Linked DNA regions of Homo sapiens. The protein of the gene in region 1 purifies or fractionates together with the protein of each later gene. This does not show direct contact. Each region holds a gene or a part of one and is shown in the gene's direction. Other genes may lie near its edges.

The links.
Region 2: the proteins of CCDC107 (region 1) and ACACB purify together in Homo sapiens (affinity purification with mass spectrometry; one large-scale study listed by BioGRID and IntAct). This does not show direct contact.
Region 3: the proteins of CCDC107 (region 1) and GCC2 purify together in Homo sapiens (affinity purification with mass spectrometry; 2 studies listed by BioGRID and IntAct, with this or other methods). This does not show direct contact.
Region 4: the proteins of CCDC107 (region 1) and RHBDF2 purify together in Homo sapiens (affinity purification with mass spectrometry; one large-scale study listed by BioGRID and IntAct). This does not show direct contact.
Region 5: the proteins of CCDC107 (region 1) and ALG8 purify together in Homo sapiens (affinity purification with mass spectrometry; 2 studies listed by BioGRID and IntAct, with this or other methods). This does not show direct contact.
Region 6: the proteins of CCDC107 (region 1) and GOLGA5 purify together in Homo sapiens (affinity purification with mass spectrometry; 2 studies listed by BioGRID and IntAct, with this or other methods). This does not show direct contact.
Region 7: the proteins of CCDC107 (region 1) and PDZD8 purify together in Homo sapiens (affinity purification with mass spectrometry; one large-scale study listed by BioGRID and IntAct). This does not show direct contact.

Annotation. Positions count from the first base shown.
Region 1 is NC_000009.12:35,657,160-35,661,091, forward strand, and holds the start of CCDC107 (coiled-coil domain-containing protein 107 isoform A precursor), read left to right. Parts: upstream 1-1,132; 5' UTR 1,133-1,220; coding exon 1,221-1,326; intron 1,327-1,416; coding exon 1,417-1,568; intron 1,569-2,183; exon of another isoform or gene 2,184-3,241; coding exon 3,242-3,302; exon of another isoform or gene 3,303-3,397; coding exon 3,398-3,488; exon of another isoform or gene 3,489-3,586; coding exon 3,587-3,932.
Region 2 is NC_000012.12:109,231,587-109,235,086, forward strand, and holds part of ACACB (acetyl-CoA carboxylase 2), read left to right. Parts: intron 1-1,082; coding exon 1,083-1,220; intron 1,221-2,161; coding exon 2,162-2,261; intron 2,262-2,351; coding exon 2,352-2,459; intron 2,460-3,500. UniProt on the Homo sapiens protein: Mitochondrial enzyme that catalyzes the carboxylation of acetyl-CoA to malonyl-CoA and plays a central role in fatty acid metabolism.
Region 3 is NC_000002.12:108,504,706-108,508,205, forward strand, and holds part of GCC2 (GRIP and coiled-coil domain-containing protein 2), read left to right. Parts: intron 1-2,821; exon of another isoform or gene 2,822-2,854; coding exon 2,855-2,925; 3' UTR 2,926-3,500. UniProt on the Homo sapiens protein: Golgin which probably tethers transport vesicles to the trans-Golgi network (TGN) and regulates vesicular transport between the endosomes and the Golgi.
Region 4 is NC_000017.11:76,491,424-76,494,923, reverse strand, and holds part of RHBDF2 (inactive rhomboid protein 2), read left to right. Parts: intron 1-1,769; exon of another isoform or gene 1,770-1,862; intron 1,863-3,500. UniProt on the Homo sapiens protein: Regulates ADAM17 protease, a sheddase of the epidermal growth factor (EGF) receptor ligands and TNF, thereby plays a role in sleep, cell survival, proliferation, migration and inflammation. Does not exhibit any protease activity on its own.
Region 5 is NC_000011.10:78,126,127-78,129,626, reverse strand, and holds part of ALG8 (dolichyl pyrophosphate Glc1Man9GlcNAc2 alpha-1,3-glucosyltransferase), read left to right. Parts: intron 1-2,187; coding exon of another isoform or gene 2,188-2,190; coding exon 2,191-2,269; intron 2,270-3,500.
Region 6 is NC_000014.9:92,814,805-92,818,304, forward strand, and holds part of GOLGA5 (golgin subfamily A member 5), read left to right. Parts: intron 1-1,446; coding exon 1,447-1,617; intron 1,618-3,500. UniProt on the Homo sapiens protein: Involved in maintaining Golgi structure. Stimulates the formation of Golgi stacks and ribbons. Involved in intra-Golgi retrograde transport.
Region 7 is NC_000010.11:117,276,774-117,279,107, reverse strand, and holds the end of PDZD8 (PDZ domain-containing protein 8), read left to right. Parts: 3' UTR 1-1,834; downstream 1,835-2,334. Other genes in the region: SLC18A2 (synaptic vesicular amine transporter), read right to left, coding at 1,842-1,946. UniProt on the Homo sapiens protein: Molecular tethering protein that connects endoplasmic reticulum and mitochondria membranes. PDZD8-dependent endoplasmic reticulum-mitochondria membrane tethering is essential for endoplasmic reticulum-mitochondria Ca(2+) transfer.

The DNA of each region.
Region 1 (3,932 bases):
AGGCACGGTTCTAACTTGAGTGATCCCATTTAATCATCATAGCTCTTGAAGTAAGTGCTTATCTTCATTCCTCAGAGTGGAAAGGAAGGCACGGAGAGAGAACTAAGTTTCACAAGGTCACCGCTCTTGAGTACAGGAGGCAGGATTCTAGCCCAAGCAGAGTCCATATGTTGTGTACCAGCTACACAGTGAATGGTGGCTACTATGGCGTTTGCCAAAGGGAGAGGGAGGTAGAAGAGGAGGCTGTTTCAGGAATGCTCCATATTTGGAGTAATGAGCACAAGGACTTCATAGCAAGGCCAAGAACAGCGTAAAGCTGCCCGCGCATGAAAAGCAGCCGCGTTGACCGGGCGCGGTGTCACGCCTGTAATCCCAGCACTTTGGGAGGGCGAGGTGGACTGATCGCTTGACACCAGGCGTTCGAGACCAGCCTGGGCAACAGGTGAAAATCCGTCTCTACAAAAAATACAAAAATTAGCCAGGCATGATGGCGTGCGCCTGCGGTCCCAACTACTTGGGAGCCTGAGGTGAGGCATCGCGTGAGCCCGGGGAGGTCGAGGCTGCAGTGAGCCGTGGTCTCGGGAACAAAAAACAGCCGCGCTGAGAATGAGCCCCGTGTGGTTGGTGCGCGGACACGCACTGCCTGCGTAACTAGAGGGAGCTGACGGATGACGCCCCCGCGCCACGCCGCTCAGCGGGATACGCTTCTTGGCGGACTTTGGAGTGGGAAGCGGGGAATGTCTACGTGCGTATGCACGTGGCACTCTCTGCCCGAGGTCCGGGGACTTTCCCCTAGGCGGAAAGGGGAGGAACAGAGTCCTCAGTGTGTAGCCTAGGATACAGGCCTTCAGCACGAACCACGTCCTCAGCTTCACAGAGTAGTATTTTATAGCCCTAAAGAAATTGTGTTTTATGATTAGGGTGAGAAAGTTGGTGGCGTGAGATTAAAAAAACCGTTTTCGGGCATAACTTTCTAAGACTATAGGCTTTCAGAGGCATTGTGGCTAGCAGAATAGCTAATAGACACGAAATGAACAAATACAGGAAAGCTAGAATGACACTATCTTATGCAAATATGGTCTGGCCCCGCCCTACGGGGAGTGGGCGTGGCCTCCCCGGAGCCGGCCGGCCTGCTCGCGTGCGCGTGCGCGTTGGGGCGGCCGGCCAATGCCGGACCGCTTCGGCACCGCCCGCCCGATCCCTCCACCCGTGGGCCGGCAATGGCGGGCGCAGTTTCGCTCTTGGGTGTGGTGGGGCTGCTGCTTGTGTCTGCGCTGTCCGGGGTCCTAGGAGACCGCGCCAATCCCGACCTCCGGGCACACCCAGGTACCAGCTAGGGCTGCTGGAGGAGGGCTGGGACTGCGCACGGGTCCCAGGCCCCAGCTCGGCTGACTCGCCTGTATCCTCCCTCCGCAGGGAACGCAGCCCACCCCGGCTCTGGAGCCACGGAACCCCGGCGGCGACCACCGCTCAAGGATCAACGCGAGCGGACCCGGGCCGGGTCGCTGCCTCTGGGGGCGCTGTACACCGCGGCCGTCGCGGCTTTTGTGCTGTACAAGTGTTTGCAGGTACGGGGCGGCCGGGGGTAGGGGTGCCCCTGCAGGTGCGGGACCGCCGGGCGTGGGGATCCCCTGAGCCCGAATCTCCCATGGGGGTGCCAGGGTACCAAGAACAAGACACAGCTTCCCTGTCTGTAAAATAAAGACAGTAGTCCGTTGGCCTTCCAATATTATGAGGTTATTTTGAGGATCCAGGGAGGTAACGGATGTGAAGAGCGTGTGGTGAACTGTAAATAATGACTATCACATTTAGTTCTCCTACAATCCAGTGAGGAGTAGTCACTTGCTCGAGGTCACCCAGCGCTGGCAACTGCTGGAGCTGGGATTTGAACCCAGCTAGCAGTGTCCATGCTACAAGAGTGGGGCCAGCCTTGGCACAGGAGGTTGATTGCTGCAGCCAGTGTTTCTAGAGTTCCAGATATGAAGTGGTCTCATGTTCTCCTTGGGAGGAGGCCCTGAAATGTAAGTTGACAGTACATTTTGAAAAACAGTACCTTCCAGGGCTGTGTCTTTAGCCGTGACCCTATTACGTACTTGCATTATAAAATAGAACCGATGGAACCAGTTTAGATATATGAAACTAGAAGAGATAGCTAATAATGACCCCAGGTAGATGTGACAGGCTAGGATGAATGACTGAATTTAATGATGAACTTTGAGAAGGATAGACTAGTAAATTCTGTTCTTGGACCTGAGTACAGTCTGGGAGAAACATAATGTAGCAGGAGGTCTTATGAAAGAGAGTTAGGCATTCCAGTTGACTGAGTTCACTGTGGGATGTGACAAGCCACTTCCCAAATCAGTGCTGGGAACATGGCACTGTGCTTCACCTGCCAATCAGAATGCCCCTGGAGAATTGTATTCTCCTCAGGGCATTGCTTTAAGAGCACTACGTGTTCAGGAAACAACCAGAGAAAACCACCGTCAATGAGCACTGACTGTAAAGACTGACGTTAATAAACCAGAAAAAACTCAGGAAAGTGGGTGAGGGTGTGACCATTGCCTTCAAATTCCTGAGGGGCTGTCACCTTGAGGAGACATTATTTTGGAAGGCTCCAGTAAGCACTATGGAAAGAAGATACATAAAGGACAAATTTTGGCTTTGTGCATGAACTGTCTAACAACCAAAGTTTTTGTTTTTTTCGAGATGGAGTCTCGCTCTGTCACCCAGGCTGGAGTGCAGCGGCGCAATCTCGGCTCACTGCAACCTCTGGCTCCCAGGTTCAAGCGATTCTCCTGCCTCAGCCTCTCAAGTAACTGGGATTACAGGCACCTGCCACCACGCCCGGCTAATTTTTGTATTTTTAATAGAGACAGGGTTTCACCGTGTTGGCCAGGCTGGTCTCAAACTCCTGACCTCAGGTGATCCACCCACCTTGGCTTCCCGAAGTGCTGGGATTACAGGTGTGAGCCACAGCACTCAGCCACCAGAGCTTTTTTCAAACCGGAGGGAGTTGCTCATTCCTGGAGGTGTTTCAGCAAACTGACCATGTGTGGGACATAGGACGTCGCTTCATATGCTGGGTGAGGAGCTAGATAGACTAGGATTGTGATTCTCTGAGGTAAAAACCCAATCACTGTCTCCATCTCAAATTGCACTCTCTCTTGGCTGGCTCTGGAGACTGAGGTGATGGAGCAGAACCTTGTTGCTTCAGTACTGCCCTTTCCTTCTTCCACAACAGGGGAAAGATGAAACTGCGGTTCTCCACGAGGAGGCAAGCAAGCAGCAGCCACTGCAGTCAGGTGGGTTTAGCAGAAGTCTGTGCTGGGTCGGGGGAGTTTAGGGGACAGCAGAAGATACATAACCACTTCTGCCCCCTTTTTTCCCTTATCCCCAGAGCAACAGCTGGCCCAGTTGACACAACAGCTGGCCCAGACAGAGCAGCACCTGAACAACCTGATGGCCCAGCTGGACCCCCTTTTTGAGCGGTGAGGAGAGCAATGATTCTGTGAATTTTTGGGGAATTTGTGGCAGGAGGGAGGAATGGGGACATAGGTTGGGAGCCACTGAGTGGACATTTCTTCAGTGTGACTACTCTGGCTGGAGCCCAGCAGGAGCTTCTGAACATGAAGCTATGGACCATCCACGAGCTGCTGCAAGATAGCAAGCCGGACAAGGATATGGAGGCTTCAGAACCAGGTGAAGGCTCGGGAGGCGAGTCTGCTGGAGGTGGAGACAAAGTCTCTGAAACTGGAACATTCCTGATCTCTCCCCACACAGAGGCCAGCAGACCTCTTCCTGAGGACTTCTGTTTAAAGGAGGACGAGGAGGAGATTGGTGACAGTCAGGCCTGGGAGGAGCCCACAAACTGGAGCACAGAGACATGGAACCTAGCTACTTCCTGGGAGGTGGGGCGGGGACTACGGAGAAGG
Region 2 (3,500 bases), on another chromosome or scaffold:
CCCAGGTTCGATCATCGCCTAGGAGAACTCACAGGTCTCGGGACATAGTCATGCTTATAGCTCTGACTTATTAGGGGGCAAGGATACAAAGCAGTTAGCCAAGGCAGAAGGCATCAGGGTGAAGTCCAGAGGAAAGCAGGTGTGCTGCCAGGGTCCTCTCCCAGTGGATTCACGCAGGGTGCACTTCATTCCCCCAGCAAGGAGTTGTGACAACACAAGTGAAGGGTTGTCTTCCAGCCCCGCACCAGGGATTGGTGGCTGGTCACATCACCCTCTGCTCTGCATCGAAATCTCAGGCTTGCAGAAGAAAGCAGGTGTTCAGCATAAACCACACTGTTTGTGCAAACAGTTGAGGCACAGTGAGCCCCCCTTGTCACCTTCAGGGAACGATAGGAACCTTCCCCAAGTCCAAGTTCCCAGAGGCCAGCCAAGGGCTGTCCTTGCAAGCAAGCAGGTCTCCTTTCTCAGAAGAGCAGTGTGGGGCCTGCTGTGCTGACTTCCTGCACACCATTTCATTACCCCTCCCGTATCTGATTCCAAGGCCCAATTCTAACAACCTCAGGTGGCCCATTGAGATTTGCTGCTGGTGAGCAGCCAGTTCTGGGAGCATCGTTGTCTAAACTCCAGAAGGCTGCTGACTTTGTCCCAAGGGCAAGTTTGATGGAGGGATTACAGGGAGCAGAGGACTGGAGTGTCCGTCAGGACCAAGCCTGACTGCCTCACCAGCTGCCTGGGGCTGGTGGATTTCTCCAGGAGAAATTGATGCTGGGAGTGTTTCTTCTCTGTGGTCAAGTTCAGCACTTGGGGCTCCCCTCGGGACTGTGTTGAGACTGGACTCTCATGCATGAATCATTGATTCCTACACTTGTTGAGCTCTTACTCTTCACCAGGTCCTGAGGGATCAGATGAGACCCTCCTCAGGCCCCGGCCCCAGCCATTGTCTCATCCCCTGCCCATTTTAAGCCCCCATTTGGAAGAGCTCTAAATCTGGTCCAGCTCACTGAAGCTTCAGGAGTAGGAGCAGCTCGTAGAGTTGGGTCTGCAAGCAGCTGCCTCATCCCCGACTTGCCATCACCTTACAGGATGACCGTGCCCATCAGCATCACCAACCCTGACCTGCTGAGGCACAGCACAGAGCTCTTCATGGACAGCGGCTTCTCCCCACTGTGCCAGCGCATGGGAGCCATGGTAGCCTTCAGGAGATTCGAGGACTTCACCAGGTACCCAGCATGGCCCGGTCTCCAACACCCTGAGCATGGGGGCTGGGCAGACTTCCCTTGAATCCCCCCCCAATTCACTGGACAGATGGGGTGGGAGAGACCCAGACACGTGGCACAGCATGTCAATAACAACAGAATAATAATAGCATTGTAGCCAAGAGTATGAGCCTACATGTCAGCTTGCCTGGCACAGCACATCAATAACAACAGAATAATAAGAGCATCGTAGCCAAGAGTGTGAGCCTGCGTGTCAGCTTGCCTGGTTTGAATTCTGGCTATGTGCTTTCTAACTAAGAGACTGAGCAAAATATTTTTACCTCTCCATACCTTCGTTTTCTTATCTGTAAAATGGGAATAATAAAGGACTCACTTCATAGGTGCGCCATGAGAATTAAATGAGATAACATATGTGAAATAACATATTTAAAGTATAATTAGTATGCAGATAATATAGTGACTAAATGTTAGCTCTCAATAGTTACTGTTATAGTCTTTTTTCAGCCTTTCACTGTGTGTTCTGCTTTGTGCTTGGAGTATCTTGTGGAATTTTCACAACAGCCTCATGAGGCATAGGGATTACTCTTATTACCTTTCTTTGACTCGGGGTGAGGTGAGGTTTCTAGGATCTCCCAGCCAGTAAAAATGGGAGCCAAGAGTTGATCTCAAGCCCAGCTGATGCCTGAAAGCGCTGGAATCCTTCCCTGTATTCCTGATCACAGATCACTTAGGTTCATTCTTCCCTTTTGGGAAGGACCCCATCACGGGTGCTCTGGACAAAGTAGACAGGGAACCTCCTGAGCTCTGTAGAGTTGGATAAGATCAAAGGGTGTTGGCTGGGAAATTGGGAGGGTCTGGCGTTCCCTGCTGCCTGGCTTGGAAGCTTGACCTCATCCCCATGGGTCAGCAGCCCCTCAGCCCTCCCTCTCTACCCGCACCCCCAGAAATTTTGATGAAGTCATCTCTTGCTTCGCCAACGTGCCCAAAGACACCCCCCTCTTCAGCGAGGCCCGCACCTCCCTATACTCCGAGGATGACTGCAAGGTAAGCGTCTAAGCCCAGGGAGCAACCTGGGGAGCAGGTGGGCCGTGGCCCCCAGGCTTTCCAGCCCTACCCCTTGCTTCTCCCTCTCAGAGCCTCAGAGAAGAGCCCATCCACATTCTGAATGTGTCCATCCAGTGTGCAGACCACCTGGAGGATGAGGCACTGGTGCCGATTTTACGGACATTCGTACAGTCCAAGGTACTCTGGGCGTGCCTCTGGTTTTGGTGGGGGTTCTTGGAGAAGGAGGAGGGGCTGGGCTCGTCGAGGCGGCCCTTGGGGAGGCAGGCGTGCTGAGTACTTCAGAGCCACAGACCTGGCTTCCCACTCTAGCTCTGCTCGCCTCATAGCTGGCGACCTTGGGCAGATGTGGCTGAACGTGGGGTCAGCATTTCTCTCGCTCACGGTGTTGCAATGATTCAATGACAAAGTATATACACGGCTTAGCCAGTCCCAGGTACGGAGGGCACACCCAATAAATAGTTTGGAGATTTTCTGGGAGTGTTTTTGTTGGAATAATCCAGAAACTGGCAGTTTTAAAATGGCTACTTACATTGATGACCAAGTGTGCCAATAACAGCAGGTTGCTCTGTAAGCCTGTGATGCCATTGTATTTCAGCCTGGGGGACAGAGCGAGACCCTGTCTCAAAAAAAATTATATATATTTACAGTATACAATGTGATATTTTTTAATTATCTTTTTAATAACAGCTTTATTGAGACATCATTGACATACTACACAATTCACCCATTTAAAGTGTGCAGTTTTGCAGCCATAAAAAAGAATGAGATCATGTCCTTTGCGGGGACATGGATGAAGCTGGAAGCCATCATCCTCAGCAAACTAACACAAGAACAGAAAACCAAACACCGCATGTGCTCACTCATAAGTGGGAGCTGAACATTGAGAACACATGGGCAGAGGGAGGGTAACAACGCACACCGGGGCCTGTCGGGGGGTGGGGGCCGAGGGGAGGGAACTTAGAGGACAGGTCGGTAGGTGCAGCAAACCACCATGGCACATATATACCTGTGTAACAAGCCTGCACGTTCTGCACATGTATCCTGTTTTTTTTTTTAGAAGAAATAAGAAAAAAAGTGTACAATTTAATATATTTTTAGTATATTCACCAGGTTGTACAACCATCACCAGAATCAATTTTAGGACATTCTCATCACTCCATAGAAAAACCCTGTACCTGTTAGCAGTCACTCCCCTCTGTCCCCAACCCAAAAACCCTC
Region 3 (3,500 bases), on another chromosome or scaffold:
TATATGCAAAATTTGAATCTCAATTTTACTACTCAAGCAGGAAGTAAAAGTCATTTTTCTATATCTTCTTTGCTCCCAGACTGTGTTACAGTTTACAGATCTGAATATTGTCACTTGTACACCATACATACACAGAGGTCTAAAACTCTCTACAAGTAAATAAAGACGAAAAAAAAGCCCAGCAACCCAATAGGAAAATAGGCCAAGCCTGTTATAGGCTTTTTGATCATCTCCAGACTGGCAGGCAGAGAATGCATACTCACACTGTAAGTGCCTGATTTGATTTGCTGAGGATATAGAACCTTATCAGAAAACAACCTTCCAAGGCAAGAGCAAATGCATCCTATCTTAGCACAGCTTTTCTCCAATTCTTATTTACCTAAGGAGATGAATAGCTGCCAGGAACATTGTTTGCACAAGGGCAGGGGCCTGCCAGATCTGAGAACACAGCAAAATTTTTGTCAAAAATCTTATATTCAGCTTACACCATTCATTTCAGGGGAACATACAACAGTCTGCATTTCAGTTTAGGGAAATGTTTACAGTCGTCTGGTTCTCTTTATTCTTGGGAACAAGGTTACCTCACTTGAAATACATAACCAGTGCCAAGTTGTCCATCCCTAAGCAATATCGCTTCCTCCTACTTTCTAGAAGTTCTTCAGATTGTGGAAGACAGACTTCTCAGAATTCTTTGCCCTCATTCCCTCCTCCAGAAATTCATGCCTTTGTATAATCTCTTCCCCTTGAGAGCCAGTAGGCTAACCTAATGAGTTATTTTTAACCAGTAGAATACAGCAAAAATGATAGATTACAAGAGATTGTGGCTTCTATCTTGCTAGCGGACTCTCTGTCTTCTCTGCTTGCACACTTTGTTGAAGCAAGCTACCATCCCATAGGCAAGGAACACAGGCCATCAGTTTAGCGGCCTTGAGGAACTAAATTCTTCCAACTACCACATAAGTTTGGAAGTAGATTCTTCTCCAGTCCAGCCTTCAGATGAGACCCCAGCCATGCCAACATCTTGATTGCAGCCCTGTGAGAGTCCTTGAAATAGAACCATTTCTGATCTCCTGACCCACAGAAACTGTGAAATAAATATGTGTTAAGGTACTAACTTTGTAATTTGTTACGCAGCAGATTGTAAATAACACGCAGATAAAACCAGACAGAACAGAAAAATAAAATGGCTTTAACTCTAGAAAATTTCCCCATGTAAAATTTTGAAAATGCTACTCTGCCTAAGGTCAAACTGACATACATATATACGTATGAAAACACAGAAAGGTGTCTGGAAGGATAATACCAAATTAAATCTTTATCCAAGAGGAATGAAAACCAGTATTCACACAAAAACCTATGCACAAACCTTGTGAATATATTAAAAACCAGTGACTTATGCACTTTAAAAAGGTGAATTATGTGGTATATGAATTATATCTCCAAAACATTTAATTAAAAACCTGTACACAATTATTCATAGAAACTTTCTTTAAAATTGCTAAAAACGAGGAAGATCTCAGTTATCCTTCAACTGGCAAATGAATAAACTGGTACAGCCATGCAATTGAATACTGCTCAGCAATAAAAAAGAATGCACTGCCAGTACAGCAACATGGATAATTCTCAAATGCCTTATGCCAGTTGACAGAGGTCAGACTCAAAATACTATGTACAGTGTGATTCTACTTATATGACACTCTGAAAAAAGCAGAACTATAAGGACAGAAAACAGGTTAGCGGTTGCCAAGGAGTGGGAGAAGCAGCCAGGGAGAACTTTGAGGAGGTGAAAATGTGCCAGGCCTTGGTCGGTGGTGGTACGTAACTGTGCATTTGTCAAGACTCAGTGCTATATGCTGAAAAGGGCAGGTTTTACTATAAGTAAGTTGTACCTCAATAAACATGATTTTTAAATGATTAAAACTTTGGTTTTTGTTTGTTTTGGTTCAGTTTTAAGGTTTACCATAAATCTATTGGTTTTAGATTCTAAGTTGTATATAAGCTTCTGTTTTAAAAGAATTTTTTTTTAAATCCTCTTATCGTCAACAATACTTAGTTGTGCTGGAAATTTTATTTTGGTATTGTTTAATGGAGAAAGACAAATAATGTTCGAGAACAGACATTGATTCATAACATCAAAGTATATTGTGAGAAGATGGTATTTCAGAATAGAAGAAGAATTTCTTATGTGCTGGTAGGATTGTTTGTAAATAATCATTTCTGCATGATTTTCATAGCTGGATTTCTTTAATAAAGCCATTTAAAGGTTAAGTTCTAGATTGCTTCATGTTGCTTATCAATGTTTTAAAGCTAAAATAGAAAATTAGCTGTTAAGTTGGCTCAACCGGAAATTCAGTATATCCTTTAAAAAGAGAAATTTAGTAAGTAGTGTGTCTAAAGAATGACATATGGATGGGTACAGTGGCTCGTGACTGTAATCCCAACAATGTGAGGCTGAAGTGGGAGGATCACTTGAGCCCAGGAATTTGAGACCAGCCTGGAAAACAGTGAGACCCGCATCTCCACAAAAAAAACAAAAAATTACCCAGGCATGGTGGCACACACCTTGTGGTCCCAGTTGCTTGGGAGGCTGAGGTGGGAGAATCACTTGAGCCTGGGAGATCAAGGCTGCATTGAAGTCTCATCACGCCACTGCACTCCAGCCTGGGTGACAGAGCAAGACCCTGTCTCAAAAAAAAAGAACCCCCCCCCCCAAAAAAAAGGCATGTAATCAGTAAAAAACACATTATTTGCTTATATTGTAGAGTGATTCTAAAATATAGATTTTACATTGAGAAATTTTAATACTCTCTTTTTTCTTTTATTTTTCTTTTTTTTTTTGTTTTACTTTCCAAAGGTGAGGAAGAAAATGCTTCCCGTTCTTCTGGATGGGCATCCTATCTTCATAGTTGGTCTGGACTTCGATAGGTTGATGGAAGGAATATTTTTATTAACCAAATAGAATCTATTTACAAAAATGGTTCACGTATATTACCACAATTCTTTTGTCAAAAAGTGTGTATATATGTTTGCATCTACATATATTTGTACATCTATATGACAGATGTATTTTAAAAGTTTCATCTTGAAGTAAAAGTACAACAGCTTGAAGTGTTGATAGCAGGCCACAGCCCTCTAACTCATGTGATTTCCCATGCATGCTGCCAGAATAAAACCACCAGGAATGAATTCACTCCCCACTTCTCTGGAACCTCAGGACCCGCCCATTTCTCGGCAGTACTGTGAATTTTGAAGTTAAACTAAATTTTGGTACCATACCAACTGGAATTTAGGCTTTAAAAATAATGTTTCAAGGCCAGGTGTGGTGATTCATGCCTGAAATCCCACTACTTTGGGAGGCTGAGGCTGGAGAATTGCTTGAGGCTAGTGAGCTGTGACTCCCACTGCACTCCAGCTCGGGGAACAGAGCGAGACCTTGTCTCTAAAAATAATAGTAATAAAATAAAAATAACGTTTTATGACTATTTATTGCAAGGTCAGAG
Region 4 (3,500 bases), on another chromosome or scaffold:
GCTGCTGTGCGTGCCCCCTTCCCTTCATTGCCCCAAAGCCTGCAGTCCAGCCCCAGGCTCGGGAGCTGCTGCCTCTTCCCTGGGATGTGGAAGGCACCTGCATCCCCGCCCAGCTGCTGCCACTTGCCTGCCTCCATCAGCAGCTTTGTTTTATTTTGTCTGTGTGTTTTTTGAGATGGAGTCTTGCTCTGTCGCCCAGGCTGGAGTGCAGTGGCGTGATCTCGGCTCACTTCAACCTCCGCCTCCCAGGTTCAAGCGATTCTTCTGCCTCAGCCTCCTCAGTAGCTGGGATTACAGGCACCCGCCACCATGCCTGGCTAATTTTTGTATTTTTAGTAGAGATGGGGTTTCACCATGTTGGCCAGGCTAGTCTAGAACTCCTGACCTCAGGTGATCTGCCCACCTCAGCCTCCCAAAGTGCTGGGATTACAGGTGTGAGCCACTGTGCCCAGCCTCCACCAGCAGCTTTTGAAATCCAGAAATTTCCAGGGGAGGGCACTGTGGTGGGTGGGGCCCAGCGCTGTGTCCAGCTCGAGGCCTGGCTGCACTGCCACCTCCTTTGGTGCCCACCCCTGTGTCTTGCCAGCAGCTGCTGCACATTGGGCTTCGGGGATGCAGGACTCCAGCACCCCCAGCTCAGCCTGCTTCCTGGACCAGGAACCCCAGCCGAGGAGGGGGCATTTGTATCTCTGCCATCCCTGCTGGCAACTGGTCCTGAGAAAGCCCAGATGGTTGGTGCAGAGGGGGCGTCAGGGGCTGCACCACCCTAAGAACATGACATGTCACCCCCCAGCCCCCCGCAACACACACACACAGGTTCACACCTCACACCCCTGATCTTGGCGGCTCCCTGGAGCACAGCACCCGCTTCCCGTGTCTGTGGTTGGCTTATGACGCCCCAGCCACTCTAACCGGGTTAAGGGGAGCCCAGAGCCTGGGGCCGGATAGGAAAAAGCCCAGAGAAGTCAGGGGATGGTCAGTCCCCTGAAGCTGCCCCTGGGGGTTCTTGATCTTCTGAACTGAGTTCGAGGCAAGCCCTGGAGGGGCGAGGAGGAGAAAGAAACAGCTCTCTGGGCCAGGACCCGCTGTTCGTGGGATGTCTGGGGAGCTGTGTGAACCCACAGGCCGTTTTGTTTCTCTCCATCAGCAGCTGTGGGCTGAAGCGTGTACCGGCGGAGTGGGTTGAGATCGTGTCTGCGCCCACTTGCCACCAGCTCCGGCCTCTGGGGAGGTGGTGCTGAGAGGGAGGGAGAGTGGCTCCTGTTTGGCTCCTGGAGACAGACAGCTGGGTGTCCCACCCTCAGAGTCCCCAGCCCCCTCTCCCCTCTGCTAACTCTGCCGGTGGAGCTCACGCCGCAGCTCATGCCAACCCTGCCCTTCTGTTTTGCCTCTCATGACTCTCCCCAAATTCTGCCCCCAGGCCCCCAGCCAGCCTTCTTGCCACTTTCCTGCCCTTTACTCTTGCCCCTTCTACCTCTTGCCAGGGCAGCGTCACTGGCTACGTGAGGCCCAGCTTGGGGATGCATGGGGAGGTGTAAGAACAGCTGTGCCATGAGCTGTCCTTCCGGGCCTCTGGGGCTGGAGAAACCCCGGGGTCAGCAGTACCACGGGTTTTGCTGGGGATTGCACAGTGGGTGAGGCTCAGCTTCCTCTTTGCAGCTTTCTAAAAATGCCCTGGTTCCCAGCAGGGCCACAGGCAGGGAAAATGAGTTTCAGTTTCTGTGGCAAGGGAGCTGGGGAGAGAAGCAGTTTCCTTGTCCCCAGCCCTCACCCTAGCATCCTGTGATTCAGCCGCGAAGACGTGGCCCCAAGCCTCCCACCGCCCTCCTTCTGTCCTGACTGCCCACTCCCAGGGACACCAGGTGACGCCTCGCCCACCCGCGGCTCCGGAGCCAGGCTGGAAGCAGCTTCCCGCCCAGGGGGTGGTTTCCCCACATCCTGTCTTCAGATGGCTTGAGCCCCCTAAACTTCCTGGTCATATCCAGTGGATAATAATGGTCTCCCTCTTTCCTGTCTGGAGGGGAGGGGGCTGCTTACTTCTTATCCAAGGGCCTGTCCCGTCCCACCCCTGTGTCCCCATTTCTGGCCACACGCAGGCTCAGCCCTTGCATCAAGCCTCTGCCTGTTTCCCTCTGGGCTGCACCTGTCACGCTCTCCCTGCCCTGCCCCATAAAGCCCATAGAGCCCAGGGCTTGTGGGGACTGCACCCTTCATTAGCAAGACTCAGAGCTTCTAGAAACCCACTTGTGTGGGGGTGGGGAGTGCAGGGAGATTGGTGGCACCAGGTGGAGAGAGGGAACTGCACCTGGGGGAGTTGGGAGGGGCAGTGGGCTGGGCCCGCGTGGAGGAGTGTGGCTTGTACAGTCCGCATGGCGGGGGGACCCTTGTACCCTGCCTGGACTGGCTGGTAGAGCTGTTGGGGACCTCCCTGGGGGTGGCCTTGCTTACCCAGCTGTGCGGAACAGGCTTGGTTGGGAGTGCCTGGCCTCACCCTTTGTGGGGAAACCAGATTCTCTGGGCAGCAGTGGTAAATGGTGTCTGAGTCTGTGTTTCGTTGGATGTGTCTGAGGTCCGCTGCTGCCAGCTGGGTTATGCTGTCTCCAAAGCTATCTGCAGTGGGGGAGGCCCTGAGCCTGGGCAGGGGAGGGTACAGAGGCCTCAACCCATGGGACCTGGGGGTGATCTGAACTCTGCACTTCACTTTTTTTCAGGATTTCCCCCGCCCCACCCTAAAGGAGGAGGAAATAGAGTCTGTCCCACCCTAAGCCCCAGTCCCTCTCCCCAGGTCTCTTTGGCATCTCCCAGCTGGGCTGGGGCTGAAGGCCCTTCTCTGGGGTTGGCCACAGTGAGGCCAGGATCTGGCTGGGCAGGTGGCAGTGTTCCGCCTGTGGGCTGGGTGCGGAGGCGGGCCTGGGGGTCTTAGAGAGAGAGCGGCGGATGTGACTGCGGGCCAGGAGGAAGCCTGGTCCCAGGATGTCACCATTTCCCCTGCAGTGAGCAAGCATCTCTAGGGCTCGGAGATAAGTGCTGGGTGGGGTAGCTCCAGCTCTCCAGCGCTTTTTTCTGTCTGGTTCCTGCCATCTGGACTTGAGCCATGAGGAAGGCCAGAGTGGGTCTGACAGTCCCCACTCCTTTCCCCGCTGAGCCCCAAGGAAGGGGCTGGGCCTTTGCACCCCCACCCCAACTTCTGCACGAGTTGGAGGCAGTTGATCTCAATGGTGGAAAGTGGCTGGTGCAAAGTCATGCTTCCATACTCCATGTTTAGGCTTCATGGGTGTCAAAGCTGGGCCGTGACCTTGTCCCATTCCCTCAGAGAAGGGAACTGAGGCCAGAGGGTGGAGCTGCTCTCAGGCCGCTGCCCAGGCCTCTTGTGCTCTGCGGTTCAGATGGCACTCCCGATGCCAGGCTCCTGCCCAGGAAGACATGCCCACCCGCCCTGGCCCTGTCTCTGCTGTCTGGTGTCAGGCCACCTCTCTTCGGGACCCCCCCCCAACTGATTG
Region 5 (3,500 bases), on another chromosome or scaffold:
ATTATTATGAAAATAGTACATATTTCAAACTCCTTGAAAGGGTCTCCCTGTGAGTCCCTGAATCACACTTTGAGAACTGCTGCTCTACAGTATTCCATTGTGTGAAAACACCACAATTTATTTAGCTATTCTGCTGTTTGTGGACATTTATCTCCACTTTTTACCTGTTGCAAATAGTTTTACTTTGCACATTTTTTTTTTTTTTTTGAGACGGAGTCTTGCTCTGTCGCCCAGGCTGGAGTGCAGTGGCGCGATCTCAGCTCACTGCAAGCTCCGCCTCCTGGGTTCATGCCATTCTCCTGCCTCAACCTCCTGAGTAGCTGGGACTACAGGCGCCCACCACCACACCCAGCTAATTTTTTATATTTTTACTAGAGATGGGGTTTCACCATGTTAGCCAGGATGGTCTTGATCTCCTGACCTCGTGATCCGCCTGCCTCAGCCTCCCAAAGTGCTGGAATTACAGGTGTGAGCCACCGCGCCCGGCCCCACTTTGCACATTCTTACAGTACGTGTCTTTTAGTGAGCATACTATGCATTTCTGTTGGGTATACGTACTTAGACTTGGGATGGATGGGTCATCAATTCAGTTCTGAGTGGAGATTTTGAAATATCTGTAGGAAATTCAAGTGAGATTGTTAACAGGAAGTTGGAGGTGTCTGTCTCCACAACTTAGTAAAGAAGCCAATGTTGCATATTGAAATTTGGGAGTAGGCCAGGCATGGTGGCTCATGCCTGTAATCCCAGCACTTTGGGAGGCCGAGGCAGGCTGATCACGAGGTCAGGAGATCAAGACCATCCTGGCCAACACAGTAAAACCCCATCTCTACTAAAATACAAAAAAAAAAATTAGCCAGGCGTGGTGCCGCGCACCTGTAGTCCCAGCTACTTGGGTGGCTGGGGCAGGGGAGTCGTTTGAACCTGGGAGACGGAGTTTGCAGTGAGCCAAGATCGCACTACTGCACTCCAGCCTGGCAACAGAGCGAGACTCCGTCTCCAAAAAAAAAAAAAAAAGTAATTTGGGAGTCATCATTATACAATTGACAGTGGAACCAGAAAGTTTGCATAAGATTGTCCAGAGCAGAATAAGTTGCGTAAAAAGGGGACCAAGAACTGAACCTAGGGGAATATCAACATGTCCCTGATGAATATAGGAAGGGAAAGCCATGACTGAGAAAGAAGGGTTGGCTGGAGGTAGGAGAAAGTTGTCATTGTGGAAAGGTTGTGTAAAATGTTGGAAAGGGTAAATTGGGCTTTGCTGTGGAACTCATTGTTCACTTTGGTGAGTGGATATTCAGCAAGAATGTATTGAGCTTGTCCATGCGTCAGGTACTGTTCTAAATGTGGAGGGGAGGTACAGCAGTGGACAAACAGGAAAAGATTTTTTCTAAAGATAGGTGATCCTTAGATATGTATAGTGATGGGAAGAGGGAGAATTTGGAGACATGGGAAAGGCAAAGCAAGGATCTTTTCCCACCTTCTCTGTCAGATGAACTCCTCATCCTTATGTCTTGGTATATGAGGCCTTTTTCAGGTAATGAATTTTGTTAGAATTGTTTGTGAGCAAGAGGAAGTCACTTCTGAGCAAAGGCCTGAGGGCCGCCTGTAAGAAAAAGTTTGGGCTAGGCCGGGCGTGGTGGCTCACGCCTGTAATCCCAGCACTTTGGGAGACTGAGGCAGGTGGATCACCTGAGGTCAGGAGTTTGAGACCAGCCTGGCCAACATGGCGAAACCCCACCTCTACTAAAAATTAGCCAGGATTGGTGGTACATGCCTGTAGTCTCAGCTGCTCGGGAGGCTGAGACAGGAGACTCGCGTGAACCCGGGGGGCGGCAGTTGCAGTGAGCTGAGATGGGTCCACTACACTCCAGCCTGGGTGACAGAAGGAGACTCCGCCTCAAAAAAAAAAAAAAAGAAAAGAAAAAGAGAAAGTCTGGGCTTCTTGTCAGCCCTTTAGGTAGTTCTGAGACCCTTTTCACTGACTTGTAGATTGCTCAACAACTTTCTAGAAGATCTGACCTCCAGATAAATGAGGTTTTACAGGATTATGTAATGTCTATTTGTGTCTCTATAGGACAGTGAGCTGTGACAGCTTAGGGAATGTCAGTCCATTTAAAAGCATAACTATGGGAATTAGAAATTGATAAATATTGCAAAATCTCATTTTATTTATCTAATTGTTTTGAGTAGCCATTCCACAGATTTTGAAGTACACCGAAACTGGCTTGCTATCACTCACAGTTTGCCAATATCACAGTGGTATTATGAGGTAAGTTTTAATTTTCACCTTTTTTTTTTTAAGATTCATCTATAAACTAGGTAAATATTACTGATATTAAAAATGTTTTCTGGCTGGGTGCGGTGGCTCACGCTTGTAATCCCAGCACTTTGGGAGGCCAAGGCGGGCAGATCATGAGGTCAGGGGTTGGAGACCAGCCTGGCCAACACAGTGAAACCCTGTCTCTACTAAAAATACAAAAATTAGCTGGGTGTGGTGGTGGGCACCTGTAATCCCAGCTACTCAGGAGCTGAGGCAGGAAAATCACTTGAACCTGGGAGGCGGAGGTTGCAGTGAGCCGAGATCGCGCCACTGCACTCCAGCCTGGGTGACAGAGTGAGACTCTGTCTCAAAAAAAAAAAAATTTTCTTGCAATCATAGATCTAATTAATCTTTATAAAAATTGTGGTCTCTTCTCAGTTCTGTCCTCTTGCACTACTAGGGAATCCCCTTACTTCAAAATGAGTTTCCCAGTCTATAAATTGGGAGGTATAATATCTACCACACTTTTTGAAAGAATAGTGGACTGGGAAAGAGGAAGAACTGGATTCTTAGGCCTGGCTCTGCCACTATCTAGTTACATAGAGAAAAGATACTTCATGTCTCTGGGCCTTAGTGTCTCATCTGGCACATGAGGATTTGGAGTGAATTATTTCTAAGATCCTGTCTGTTCCTAATGTTTTGTGATTTTGTGAGGAAAGGAATAATCAAATGTGATGTGTAGACATCAGGTAATATACAAACCATTCTCTCATATTGTTTATAAAAACTATGTCTGTATTTTTATTTCTTTTTCTTTTCCTTTTTTTTTTTTTTGAGACAGAGTCTCGCTCTTGTCACCCAGGCTGGAGTGCAGTGGCACAATCTCAGCTCACTGCAACCTCCGCCTCCCGGGTTCAAGCGATTCTCCTGCCTCGGCCTCCCAAGTAGCTGGGATTACAGGCGCCCGCCACCATGCCCCAGTTAATTTTTGTATTTTTAGTAAAGAGGGGGTTTCCCCATGTTGGCCAGGCTGGTCTCGAACTCCGGACCTCAGGTGATCCACCCACCTTGGCCTCCCAAACTGCTGGGATTACAGGCGTGAGCCACTGCACCCAGCTTGTATTTTTGTTTCTGGTATGAATTACTAAACTGTGTGTAATACTTTATGAAAAACAGACATTACTCCAGAAATTTCTTCTTTTTTTTTTGAGACGGAGTCTCGCTCTGTTGCCCAGGCTGG
Region 6 (3,500 bases), on another chromosome or scaffold:
AATCTCTTCTTCAAACTCATCTTTTATCTCAGGGGTCAGAAAACATTGAGAGGGTCAAATAGTAAATATTGTAGGCTATGTTGGCTACCTGTAGTCTCCATCACATATTCTTTGTCTTTATTATTTATGATCCTTTTAAAATGTAAAAAAAAAATTTAGCTTGCAGGCTGTACAAAAACAGGCCCACGGACCATCATTTGTGAGCACCTTCTTCATAGCACTGCCAGGTTAGCCTCCTAAAATGCATCTCTAGTCATGTCACTCCTCTCTCTACTTTTTGGTAATTTGTTTTAGCCTGCCATATAATATTAAAACATTTTAGCCTGAGATCAGGAGCCCCTCCAAATTGGTGCTAAAATACTATCTGAGCTGCATCTCACATTATTTTCTTACAGACTTTGTGTGCTTTTGCATTTTTATGCTTTGCTCTCTGTTTTTCTCTGCACTTTAAAAAAGTCTACCCATATTTCAAGGCCAACATTTATGCTCTCTTAAAGTCTCCTCTTACCCAGAAGTGGTTTTTCCTCTCAGAACTCTGCAAGTAATCTGACCATATCCTTTTCTCTACTTGTGTTGATTGCCTTCTGCTGGATACTTGTAACTTCTCTTTTAGTTTGTAAGGCAGAGGGTACTATCTATAGAGAGAGACATTATCTTTATTGCGCAGAACACTTAGCACCATTTACTTGTTGGGTAGAATGTGTTGGAAAATAAAAACTATGAGAAGAAAATGTGAGAAAAGTCTTGTTTGGCCAGGTGTGATGGCTCACTCCTGCAATCCCAGCACTTTGGGAGGCTGAGGCAGGAGAATTCCTGGAGGCCAGGAGTTCAAGACCGGCCTGGGCAACATAGCAAGACCGTATCTCAAATAAATAAACACAAATTTTTTTTAATCTTTTTTTTTTTTTTTTTTTTTTTAGACGGAGTCTGGCTCTGTCACCCAGGCTGGAGTGCGGTGGCGCGATCTCGGCTCACTGCAAGCTCCGCCTCCCGGGTTCACGCCATTCTTCTGCCTCAGCCTCCCTAGTAGCTGGGACTACAGGCACCTGCCACCATGCCTGGCTAATTTTTTTTGTATTTTTAGTAGAGACGGGGTTTCACCATATTAGCCAGGATGGTCTCGACCTCCTGACCTCGTGATCCGCCCGCCTCAGCCTCCCAAAGTGCTGGGATTACAGGCGTGAGCCACCGCACCCAGCTGGAAAAAAAAAATCTTATTCATAACAAGCTTTCAACTTTACCATGATTGTGGGGCTAAAGTCCAAGGACATTATACAGCAAGGCTCTGTTGTGTTTTTTATCCTTAGGGATTTAAGAAAATCTGTGGACTTTCTTTGATGGAGATAATGGAATTTTTTTTAGTGGGTTATTTTCTGTATAGTAGATGATATTCAATATACAAACTAATCTCTGCTTTGCTTAAACATATTTCTTCTTTTATAATAGTCTAAGGAAAAATTGATTAACAGCTTGAAAGAAGGCTCTGGTTTTGAAGGCCTAGATAGCAGCACTGCCAGTAGCATGGAGCTGGAAGAACTTCGGCATGAGAAAGAGATGCAGAGGGAGGAAATACAGAAGCTGATGGGCCAGATACATCAGCTCAGATCCGAATTACAGGTAAGATTCATGGTGGTTCAGCTTAGTAGACACCATTTACCCTCAGGTGTTAACAGTTTGAGAGGTGGGGAAACAGCATTACTAAAGCGATAGGTTTCTCGCTTCTCTTCGCTTCGCTTCGCTTCTCTTCTCTTCCTCCTCCTCTTCCTCTTCTCTTCTTTTGGAGTCAGGATCTTGCTCTGTCTCCCAGCCTGGAGTGGTGTGATCATAGCTCACTGCAGCCTCGAACTCCTGGGCTCAAGCAGTCTTCCCGCCTCAGGCTCCCAAGTAGGTGGAACTACAGGCACATGCCATCACGCCCAGCTAATTTTTATATTTTGTAGAGACAGGGTATCCCTGTGTTGTCCAAGCTGGTCCCAAACTCCTGGCCTCAAGTGATTGTCCCTCCTCAGCCTCCCAGAGTGCTGGGATTGCAGGGCTGTTGCAGCCCGTGCTGGGCTAAAGCAGTAGGTTTCTTTCTTTCTTTCTTTCCTTTCTTTCCTTTCTCTCCTTTCTTTCCTTCCTTTCTTTCCTTTCTTTCCTTCTTTTTTTTGAGATGGAGTCTCGGTCTGTTGCCCAGGCTGGAGTGCAGTGGCGTGATCTCGGCTCACTGCAACCTCCACTCCACCTGCCAGGTTCCAGGGATTCTCCTGCCTCAGCCTCTTGAGTAGCTGGGATTACAGACGTGCGCCACCACACCTGGCTAATTTTTGTATTCTTAGTAGAGATGGGGTTTCACCATGTTGCCCAGGCTGGTCTTGAACTCCTGACCTCAAGTGATCCGCCCACCTCGGCCTCCCAAAGTGCTGAGATTAGAGACGTGAGCCACCATGCCCGACCAGGTTTCTAATCCATAAGTTGACCATAAAGTTATGGTGATAAAAAACAGATCAATTCATTCAACAAATAGTTACCAAGTGCCTGCCATGTGCCTAGGTTTGGAATTAGAACAGGGTCTTCATAATTATAGATCTTACATTCTAGTGGTTAAAAGCAAATCAGATTTGAGCTCCTATGTGAAGCTGAGATGTTTTCTAATATTAGTATGGGCTCAGGGATGATCTTCTAATTACAGTTTTATCCTTATTCTTATAATTTATAGTTTATGTATAATTACTATATTTAAAAGTAAAGTTGGGCCATTTATTTTGCTTAAACTTCGGGGTCTTTGACATAAATATCGTAGGAAGGAGTCTCTGAAGGTGAGAGAAGATAAAGTGCAGCATAACGAGCTTCCTTTTCTTAAAAGGAAGAAACTTTTTGTAGAGAATGTTCATCCATGCATTAACTCTGCACATTGTGAGACTTGTGAACTACAAAAGAAAGCGTGAAAGTTGTGAGAATAGGATACCTTGTCTAGAGCATAGACTTGAATAGCAGACAGACGTGGATAGATTCTGTCTTTGGTACTTAACAGATGCTGCTTCCACAAGGCACTTCATCTTGCGGAGCTTTAATTTTCTCATCTATAGAATGCAGGTAAACAAAGGTTCTCTTGACAATAAAGGATAATATATGAAGAGCCTAGCATTGTTTCTGACATGTAATAGACCCTCAGTTAAATAATAGCTGCTATTATTTCTGGGTTTATTGTTATTCATTAAAGTAGGATTTTTTTTTTAATCTGTGAATTTGAATTCCAAAGAATTCAGTCCTGCAAACTTAGAAATTGGGTAGATGCTAAACTTACTCATATCTGTTCATGTCTTTTTGGTGAGATTATGAAAAATACTTGTTTTATTTAATATATCAGCATCATTAATGACATTGACCCATTTTCTTACCCTTCTCAAAATTTATGCAATGTATAATAAGTGTTAGGTCTAACAAAATGAAAGAATTGTAAATAATTACAATAGCTATTGTTTACTGAGCACGTATGTTCCAGATACTGCACAGAGCAC
Region 7 (2,334 bases), on another chromosome or scaffold:
ATCTTATCCCGAGGGACCAACAGCAGGCATACCTTTGCCAGGCCTTCTTGCAGAAAGACACAGAGCCGTAAAGGCAAAAATAAAATTGCAATAAAGTATATGGTATTGGGGGCAGGGAGAACCAGAAACCCTCAAAGAGAACCAATTTGTAGCACGTTCTTTTTTAAGGCTCTACCCCTGTAGAAGTAAGAAACTAGCCTGCCTTTTTAGCCATATGAGAGTTTCCTCCAGAGCCATCTTCCAAAGTGGCAGACTTGGCCAAGTTGCCCAATGCCAAATAAGTGAGTTGGAAGTTCGTTTGCTTCAAACACACTGCACTTAGAAACCAGACTTGAAATAATCGAAGCCCCACAGAAAAGCTTCATGAAACGAAGTGTTACTTTCCTAGAGAATAAGAAAGTCACAAGATTGAGGAGTCTGTTCTAAAGTTCTTTGCTCCTTGATGTCGAAGTTAACACAAACACAATCTTAGCTTAACGAAACTAAGTAATTTTTGTTTATGATTATAGAACTGCAGGATTCACAAGTAGTATTAGAGACATTCCACACTGCACACTCCAGTCATATCTCTTAACAAAATGACATAAATTGACAATGTTCACTAACAGTATTTGCTGTTACACTGAAAAGGCACATCAATGTTGTCATGCTTAGAAAAATACACAACACTGCACACTGGATGATATAGTTAGCACATACATTTTTAGATGTTCCATTTTTCTTTTCTGCCTGATCACTATTATTTTTACTTCTTAATATATGATTCAAGACATAATTTCATTCTTCATTTTCATTTAAAATTTGTCTTCACATTGATGTGAACAACTTTCAGGAGTCTAAAAAATAGTAGTTTCAGACAACCTAAAATAAATATATTCCTAGAAAACACTTGGATGACCTGCAAACAGATCAAAGATATAGTCAGATATTAAAGTCAGAGCAGCTGTTTTCAGCTTCTTGTTTCCTTTTCTAAAACTTGAAGTAGATGGCGATTAACCTTATCATGTTTAAACAACCTTGACAGTATAAGGTACATGTACCCTCAATTTTCTTCATCCAGTAAGACAAGTATGCATCTTAAAGGGAAAGCTTTTAGTTCATAACAATATGTTTGGTTGCTTTTCTCTGCTTTCGGAACATTTACTGTTTTTCCTTTATTGGCTTTAGTGTTTGCTGCCAACCAGATAACATGTTAACATATAATTTACAACTCTCTCTAGGTAGGTGATTACATAGAAAACTAATGCCAGCTAAGATTTATGGATTCAAAAGATAACTGACACAAGTTCTTGTCCTCTACACTTGAGAGAACTAGCTGTTTAACGCATAAATATATTGATAGTAACTACAAGTTAAATAACATTCAGTGTCACTATATAACATGCTGTCTTACTTGATTCTGTTTTTCAGACTTCATTCTAGTTTCTCTTTGTTGGAAGAGTCTCAGAGATAATGTGTGCTTTAATTTTAAACACTCATTACCAATATGATTTTTGCCCAAATGTTTGTTAATGTAAGTTAAAAAATTATATTTGGTTTGGATTCAAATATTTATAGATTTACACAATACCTATTTCATCAAAATATATTGTATGATATTTAATAAAATTAAATACATAAAATAAAGTTTCAACACTATTTATACAAACCCCTAGAAAAGCTTCTTTTTCTTTATAAGGCTGTTGGCAATCGACCATAACCATGGAAAGGAAATAATAACCTTTGGTTTTACTCTTTCACCAGGGATGGATGGTATGACTAAGACAGTTCTGGATGAGTTGTGTCACTGGAAACACTGTTTTATACAATTAAACACTTTGATGATTTTTGAGGATCTCATCTCAGTCACTTTCAGATTCTTCATCTTCACCTATCGGATATGACTGGATATTATTCTGAGTGTACATTTTTGTTTTAATAGGGCAGTTGTGATCCATGAGAATAGCCTAAAAGAGAGCAAAGTGCAAGTATATTAACTTCTTGTTTCATAAAGATAAGATGGTTTTAACCTACTGTTTTTAAGGATTATTAGTTTGAAAACTATGTAGTATTACTTGCTATTAACCAGTCATTTGGAGCAATCGCCAGACGCCTGACCTAAAAGACCTGTAGTTCTACACTCTAAAAATTCCAGGCAATTGGAGACAGAAGTGGTCTCTGCAGTATTTTCATTATACCTGTCAGGGGCCATAAGTCCACTCTGGGAACTTATACTCTATGAAGCAAGGGACAGGCAGGTTAGGTTTGTTATACTTAGAATCTTGGAATTGGGGTATGGGGATCCTGGAGGTCACCCAGTCCAACTTCTGTTTACAGACGTCATTGTAGCAACAC